2 linked regions of the Homo sapiens genome follow. The protein of the gene in region 1 binds, or shares a complex with, the protein of each later gene. Each region holds a gene or a part of one and is shown on either strand. Other genes may lie near its edges. A codon is read from its position in the direction of its gene.

Evidence for each region.
Region 2: the proteins of GNAO1 (region 1) and HRH3 are in contact, whole or in part, in a cryo-EM structure (PDB 8YN7), measured with the Homo sapiens proteins. Residues at the interface, in NP_066268.1 of Homo sapiens: Ile28 (codon at 1,972), Ala31 (codon at 1,963), Lys32 (codon at 1,960), Asp33 (codon at 1,957), Val34 (codon at 1,954), Lys193, Asn194, Leu195, Asn312, Pro315, Asn316, Lys317, Glu318, Ile319, Tyr320, Phe336, Thr340, Asp341, Ile343, Ile344, Ala345, Asn347, Leu348, Arg349, Gly350, Cys351, Gly352, Leu353, Tyr354; in NP_009163.2 of Homo sapiens: Asn69, Asp131, Arg132, Ser135, Val136, Ala139, Val140 (codon at 2,467), Tyr142 (codon at 2,461), Arg143 (codon at 2,458), Ala144 (codon at 2,455), Gly147 (codon at 2,446), Ile221 (codon at 2,224), Ile225 (codon at 2,212), Arg228 (codon at 2,203), Arg232 (codon at 2,191), Thr345 (codon at 1,852), Phe348 (codon at 1,843), Arg349 (codon at 1,840), Arg352 (codon at 1,831), Val356 (codon at 1,819), Leu360 (codon at 1,807), Cys415 (codon at 1,642), His416 (codon at 1,639), His417 (codon at 1,636).

What each region holds. Positions count from the first base shown.
Region 1 is NC_000016.10:56,190,133-56,194,288, reverse strand, and holds the start of GNAO1 (guanine nucleotide-binding protein G(o) subunit alpha), read right to left. Parts: upstream 2,801-4,156; 5' UTR 2,054-2,800; coding exon 1,936-2,053; intron 1,735-1,935; exon of another isoform or gene 1,716-1,734; coding exon 1,673-1,715; exon of another isoform or gene 1-1,672. UniProt on the Homo sapiens protein: Guanine nucleotide-binding proteins (G proteins) function as transducers downstream of G protein-coupled receptors (GPCRs) in numerous signaling cascades.
Region 2 is NC_000020.11:62,214,460-62,218,071, forward strand, and holds the end of HRH3 (histamine H3 receptor), read right to left. Parts: intron 2,468-3,612; coding exon 1,547-2,467; 3' UTR 948-1,546; coding exon of another isoform or gene 920-947; 3' UTR 501-919; downstream 1-500. UniProt on the Homo sapiens protein: The H3 subclass of histamine receptors could mediate the histamine signals in CNS and peripheral nervous system. Signals through the inhibition of adenylate cyclase and displays high constitutive activity (spontaneous activity in the absence of agonist).

The DNA of each region.
Region 1 (4,156 bases):
TCCCCAGGCCCCGCCTCCCCATCAATTTGGGTTGCACAAGCTCAAGAGAAGCCCCAAGCTAAATTACCCCTGGCTCAGAAGGGTGCGGCGAGCCAAGGGGGGCTCTGCGAAGAAAGCCCCAGGGAGCTCTCGAATAAAAATAAGAACATGTCAAGCAGATGGGAAAATTGTCTCCGAGTCGCTACTCCCTACCATCATGGCGCCGCCTAGAACCCGCTTGTCATGCCTGTTACACATCCAAGATTTTTTGCATCTTGGTTCTGAAACCGCAAGCATGCTTCGTCTCCCACTCCCACCTTCCCACGAAAGGGGTTTTTATTTTCCATTGTTTCCCTACGCGATGCAATTATTTCGGCTATTGTGTCAAGTTGAAAAATAATCATTTTTGTTTACTGCACAGCAACCCCTAATTAGGAGCTGTGTGTGCACGAAGGTGTCACAGCAAAGCGACGTGGAATCTTCGCTAAACGGTCTAAACGAACTCCTCCGTCTCGAACTGACAGGCCAACCGAAACAGGAGGCCCGGAGGGCGCACACCCCTTCGCTGCCGGCCACCCCCTCCCCAAGCAAACCTGCCTGTGGGATCACCAGGAACTGCCGAGTGGATAGGGCAAGAAGCGAGCCTGCAAGTGGAAAGGAGGGGCGAGGCTCCTTATTGAGAAAGTGTGGAAGGGAAGGAATATCCCATTTTGTTTTAATTTTCAACCATCACTCAAATCCACCCCCAGTTAATTAGGAGGGGAAACTGATAGCTAAGGCAGAAGGGGGCGGCGGCAAGTGGGGCCTGAAATCCGCATTGTGGGTAGATTACATGGAACACGGCCTATGCAGAGTGTAAATAAATACACTGATAAAGGCCACGGAGCGAACGAAAACTGCGGGTGTCAGGAGAGCAATGCTGGGAGGGTGGGGGAGGAGAGGAGCTGGGGGCAGCAAGGGGCGGACATTCAGCCTCACAGGCAGCTTCCCTCCCCCTTCCACCTCTACCTTGGATAAAACTGTGCCCGTCACCTACGTTTGGAAACCCACTCCTTCCCCTAGCACACGACCCCTCCCCTAACCCTGGCCCTCTTTTTTTGCGGGGGAGGGGGTGCGAGGGGATGTAGAAACCACAGCCTCCAATTCAGCACCAAACGCATGAACAGCAGACACTTGATCCTCCACCCCAGTCTAGGGCTGGGTCCCCTCCATGTTAGCCAAGTTCAAAATCACTGCCCCAGGAAAAGAGCAGGGGGAAGTGGGATTACGGACCTTGGGGGATAGGGAGGTATGGAGGGAAGAGGAGAAAGAAATAGAGACAGAATGAAACAGAGACACAGACAGAAATGGAGGCAGTGAGACACAGAAAATATTCCACAAGCAAGAGTAATGATCATAATCATGCCAATAGTGTGATGTTCTGATCAATATGGCGGACACTGTCATTCATACAACTACAGGCGCTCCCCTTCCCCCTCCCAAAAAACACCCACCCAGGAGTTAGGGTGGAGGACCCAGAACCAACGTAGGGAGTGGGGGAGGGGAGTCAAATATAGGGGTGTGTGTGTGTGTGTGTGTGTGTGCACGAATTAAAAAACAGGCCTGGAGAGCAATGTGGAGTAAGCAATGTAATAAAAACGATTTAAAAATTATTCTTAATAAAAGTACGAATCCCAATGCCACAGGGACTTACTTCATCTGCTTCACAATGGTGCTTTTTCCTGATTCTCCAGCCCCTGTTGGGACACAGACAGTGGGGAAAAACTGGTGAGTGTCAGCTTAAGGGAACAGGGGGAGGGGGGGACTAAGGCATGCGAGGGGGTGGGCGATCCTGGGCACATGGTGGTGCCAACTTGGGGACCAGGTCTCCCGGGCGCGAGTGGGGTGGGGGAGCTGGTGGCAGGGGGTGCGGAGTGGCCGGGGTCGGGGGATGGGGGTAGCAGCGGCGGTCCTTACCGAGCAGGAGTAATTTCACGTCTTTGGCGGCGCTGATGCCATCCTCTTTGAGGTTTTTCTCAATCGCCTTGCTCCGCTCGAGGGCGGCTCTCTCCTCTGCGCTCAGAGTACATCCCATGGTGGCCCCTTCCCTGCCACAGCCCGCACGACTCGGCTGGCACGGCTCCCCGGCTTGGAGCGCCCCCCACCCCCCCAGAGAGCAGAGCCTGGGCTCAAGGGGGGAAAATCACGATATCCTCTCCTGGGCTGGAAACAAAAATGTCGGGAAACCAGAACCCTCCAAAAAGACAGCCGCTAACAAGATTCCAGCAGCGGAGACTCGCGGCAGCTGGCAGGGGTCTGGGGTTGTCGAATCGAGGGTGGCCGGGGTCTGGGGCTCCGGAGCCAAGGGAGGAGGCGCCCGCGGGCCGAGGAGGCGCGGACTGCAGGCACTGAGGCTTGTGCACGACCCAAAATAAATAAAATAATAGTCGAGGCTGGAGCCGCAGCCGGAGCCGACAGAGGGTGGGGTGGGGGGCAGGGTGGGTCCTGCTGCCGCGGCTGCCGGAGGAGGAGGAGGCGGCGGCGGCGGAGGAGGAGGTGGAGGAGGCGGCGGCGGCGGCGCGGGATGTGGAGGGAGTGAGTTAGGGGGTGCTGCTAGTGCATGTGCATCGCCGCTCTTCAGCCGTCGGTGCGTCCGCGGCGCCTTCGCCGACCCCCGCGCGCTGGGCAGGGTTGGGCAGGGGGCCGGGCCGAGGGGCAGGTCTCTAGCGGGAGGCGGCGTCGCTGTCTCCCAGAGCTCGCATCGCTCGGTGAGCCTACCGGAGAGAGAGGGAGAGCGCCAGGGAGCCGCAGCCAGCCGGGAGCTCGAGGGAGAGGGAGAGAGAGAGAGGCAGGGAGGGAGGGGAAAAAAAAAATGGGAGAGCGAACAAGCGCGCGCGCGCCTGGGCCCGGGGCGGGGAGGAGGCCAGCGCAGCGCGCGAGTGCGCCAGCGGCTCTGCGCACCCGGCTCCGCGGGCCGCCAGCTGACGTCAGCAGGGCCGCGCGCCGGGCCCCCGGGACGGGGAGGGCGCGGGGCGGGGGAGGCGCGCGCCGGAGTTCGCGTCAGCCGGCGGCGGCGCGCACACGCGCTCGCGGAGCGGCCTGCCCCTCCCCCCAGCGCCCTCCCGGCCCGCGGCTCCCCCGGGGTGGGTGCTTGCGGGACTGGCGGGGGCGGGGAGTGGGGCCGGGCGCGCGCCGGGGCGCCCCACCCCGCCTCCGCCCCCGCCCCACGCGCCGGCGGCGCGGACCTCCTTGTCAATGGGAGCGCGGGGCCGGGCTGCCCGCAGGACGGTCAGGTGGGCCCCCCAGCTCGCTGCCAGCGCGGCCTCTGTCCCTCTCGGGCCGGCTCTCCATCTTGTCGCCCGTAGCCCGCCTTCTCCGTGGCTCTCCAGCCGCTGGGGCCGCAGAGCCGAGGCCGGGTTACCTCAGGAAACGCGATGTGGTAGTGGGTCGGAATAAACCCGCGCGCCCCAGAATTCGCCTTGGGGGCGTAAGGACAGATTCGGACTTTTCGTTTCCTATGTCCACATTTATTGAGCACCTAATATGTGACACCCGAGGCTGTAAGAAGAGGAACGCAGCGGGCGGAGAAAAGCCAGAGCTTTTTCTCTGTGAGCCGCTGCCTCCAGGGCCATAGCCGACCCTGCTCCGAGATCCCAGCCGCCGCTCTCCGTGCAGGAGGGGTGCCCACCCTGGGGAGGCCAGGGTGCCCGGAGTGGAGGGACAGGGCTTCAAGCGACCGGGAGTTTCCAGCAAACCCCTGATCCCTGAGCAGTTTATTTTAAAAGCTTTTGCAAATGTTGGACGGTTTCGTTTGGTGGAGGCCGTCTTTGCACTAAATTCTCCTGTCCTCCCCCTTCGAAACGCACAAAATGAATTTTGAACAGATTTTGGATGAGAGGTTTTCTTCCTTTTTTCATCTTCTGAAACATTTCCCCCTCATTTCTTCTCAGATAAAGACCCAGAAACCCGGGACAGTTACTCGGTGTACAGCTAGTCAAATACTGAGGAAACCAGTCGATATTTGCCAAAGATTGGGCATGTTCTGGGTGGTCTCAGATTTTGAAGAAACGACTTTTTTACTGCACAAAATAGTTTTACAATCAGTTCCATCAGACAGCCCCAGGGGCTCTCCTAGGGAAAGGGGCCAATAGGCAAGGTTGCATGGGGATAAGAGAGGCAAGCGGCCAGTGGAAAACGG
Region 2 (3,612 bases), on another chromosome or scaffold:
CTCATCCCTTCTAGCAGCCCCTCCAGCCTAGCTCCAGCCAGCTAGCCCAATCCCTCCCCTCTGGTCACTGCAGTCCCTTTGCCACCCAGACCCTGCACACGCTGGGCATGGCCATGATCCTCCCTGGGTCCCAAGTTTTGCTGGGGTGCAACCCTGCTCCTGACCAAGAAAGATGAGGCACCTGTCCTGGGGGCAGGAAGGCTGCATGTCTGTGTTCTCAGGGCCAGAGCGGGCCCCTCCTGTGCAGGGCGTGGGCTGCATCTCCTCACCCGCCAGCCAGGTCTTGAGAAGTGCAGGGGTCTGGCGGTAGGGCACATGAAACCCTTCTTGGGATTAAACCCTGGTGTGGCAGGCTGGTCTTTCATCCCCACTGCAGTCCCCCGACTTAGAAGAAAACACAGAGCCCTCATCCTCACGCCTGCTTCTCAGTGGTTTCTGGACTCCCTGGAGTCTCTCCTCAAAGCACGAAGGCTCTGAGCACCCCACAAAGTCCTCAGGAATCAGCACCAATAAAAAAATACACTTTATTGTGACCTCACGGTTTGCAGGGCAGCGCAGCGGGCACAGGCAGAGGAGCATGCAGAGCGCGTGGCACGGGTGCACAGCACATGGCGAAGCGGCCCCTGCCCGGGCACCTCCTCTGGACCGCCCCTGCACGCCTTGGGACCCTCGGGCCCAGCCGGGCCCCCTCCTCCCAACAACCCCCAGAGGTCCTGGGTGAGCAAACAGAGTGGCCGGGGCAGGCTTGGCCACCAGGGCTGGTGTGAGCCCAGAGGCGGGGTGGGCAGAAGCAGCTGGCACAGCTCAGCCGGAAGCCTTAGCGGAGGGAGGAGGGCGTGGGAGCCCACACCTGCCAATCCAGCCCTGAGCTCCTCAGCAATTTTGTCTCTCTTGATTAAACATCCCAGGAACATCAAGTTCACAGACATGTTTTCTTCTTCATCTTTCTGAAAACACCCAGAATGGAAAAGCAGAGAACAGCTTCGAGGTTCCTAGGGCCCCTTGACACTTTTGGGGGCAGAGAGAGTTGGTGGGAAGAGGGGTGAAAGGGCCAGGCCTGAGGCTTATGCAAGAGACAGAAGGCAGCAAAGGCAGTGTCCTGGGCTTGTCCGGGGAGAGGGACGGTGTGCAGGTGTGTGCAGGGGTGTGCAGGTGTGTGCACGTGCAGAGGCAAACTGCTAGGGCAGGAAGCCTGGAGCACACCCAGGTGCTTGCTTTGGGAAGAACACCAACCAGTAACTGCGAAGGGTGGGCACCAGCAGGGGGTGGGCAGCATGTCTGGGACCTCCAGACTGTCCCTCCCGGTGGAGCCAGAATGTGGGGGGCAGGGCCGGCCACCCAGCCTCCAGTCCAGCCAGTGAGGGGCCCTCTGGCCAACCCAGGAAGGCGCCTCCATGGCAGGGTGGCTGCCGTGGCATTAAGAGAGGGCCACAGACACGGCGGGGCTCACCCCTGGGGGAACGAGCCGGGTAGGGGGCAGCAGGGCCAGATGCCCAGGAGACCTGGGCTGAGAGAGGCGTGGCTGAGGGAGGCTCTGGTGGGCCACTCACTTCCAGCAGTGCTCCAGGGAGCTGTGGGGCTGGATTTTGAGCTTCTGGGGGCAGAGCAGCTTGGTGAAGGCCCGGCGGAAGCTGTGGTGGCACAGAGGGTAGAGGACAGGGTTGACAGCCGAGTTGGCCCACAGGAGCCAGAAGGAGGTTTCGTACCAGTAGTCAGGGACGCAGTGGCCATGGCAGGCGGCCCGGATGATCATCAGCAGCGTGTATGGGGCCCAGCAGAGCCCAAAGATGCTCACGATGACGGCCAGCGACTTGGCCACTTTCCTGTCCCGAGACAGCCGAAAGCGCTGGGTGAAGCTCTGGGACACCATCTTCATGCGCTTCTCCAGCGAGGCCGAGGACGCCGACGGCTTGGAGCCCCTCTTGAGTGAGCGCGGCCTCTCAGTGCCCCTCGAGGAGCTGCCGGAGCTGGAGGTGGGTGAAGCCACGGAGCCGCCCCCACCGCCACCCCCGAGGGTCGCCTCCCCGGCCTCAGCGCCTACGGCCGCCTCACCCACCCCATACCTGTGCAGCGGCATGGCCTCCCCGTGCCCCTTCTGCCAGCAGCCCCAGCAGCCAGGCGGTGGGGGTGGTGAGGGCTGGGCCTCGGGAGGGGGCTCGGGGCCGGCTGCCTCTCGAGCCCCATCCAGCCGGAGGCGGGTGCGCCTCTGGATGTTCAGGTAGATGCTGAGGTTAAAGAAGGTGACGCTGAGGAAGGGCGTAAAGAACTCCAGGGTGGAAGCCGTGATGAGGAAGTACCAGTTGTAGAAGAACTCGGCATAGCAGTGGCCCTCGGGGATGGAGCTGCCCCCGGACAGGTACTCCCAGCTCAGGATGGCTGGTCCGTACAGCAGGAAGGCCAGCACCCACACCAGCAGCATCTTCCGCACTGCCCGCCGCGTGTCACCCTGCTGGGCCCGGTATGAGACCTGCAGAAGGGCAGGCTGGTCAGGGGCGGGGCGGAAGGAATATTGGGCTGGGTGCGCCCCCGTAGCCTGTGGGCCCCTATGTGGGCCCTTCCCTCAGCAGCAATGCTCCTCCTTTCCCCTCCTGTCCTCCCTCCCTCCCTCTTTCCCCTCCCTTCCTCTAACCCTCCCCACTGGGGTCCCGGACTGGTGCCCTGCCACACTCAGTGAGAGCCTCAGAAGCTCCCTGGGACCAACCTGAACCCTCACTCTCTGCTAGGCTGCCTGTTTACCACCCCCTACCAGCTGTGAGCTCCCTGGGGGTCCTGTCCTTGGCCCCTGCACCCTTGGGACCAGACTCAGCATCAGCCCCAGACCACGTGCACACACAGCTGTTTCTGACATGATGCATCCTGATCCTGCAAAGGCCCGAGCCATCTGCAGAGGTTGGGGTGGGAGGTCCAGCCCCACTCCTGCACAGGTGCTCGCACCCCTGGGAGCTGGAGGTGCAGGGGTGAAGCCACAAGTTGGCCCACTGCTGGGAGACATCCCCCGCCCCGCCACAGAACAAAGCATCCCAGATCGACATCAGGGCCTCTTGGGAAGAAGAGGGAGAGAGGGCAGGGCCCTCCTCAGGGCAGAGAGCAACCAGCTGGTGGGGGCAGGGGGCAGGAGGGCCAAGGGATCCCACTGAGGGGTCTCAGGTAGGACAGCTCGAGGAGGAGGACCTGAGAGCCCCTGCCACCCTCCCCCACCAGCCTGATGGCGTTTACCTTGGTGACGGTGGGAGCAATGTTCACAGCTATTGCTAATGAGAGGTGGGCAGAGCACCCCCATGCCAGGCTCTCTGCTCGGCCGCTTTACCCTTCGTGGCAGCTCTCCTTGTGCCCCATGCCTGGTGGCTCCAGGAAAGGAGGGAGAGACCACAGGGGGATGGGCTCAAGAGGAACCCAAAGCCATGCTCTTTGCACCCTGTCTCTTAGCCTTTCTAGGCTAGAACCAAACAACCTGCCCTCAGTCCTGCAGAGGCCCTCATAAAGCCCTGGGGACGTGAGCTGCCAAGGAGATGAGAAGGGGAAGGTGTGACTTCAGCAGCGGCTCCCTGGGCTGCATGGCCCCGATGCGGGAGCCTGGGTGGGGCAGGGTCCCTGACTCAGGTGGCCGCTCCC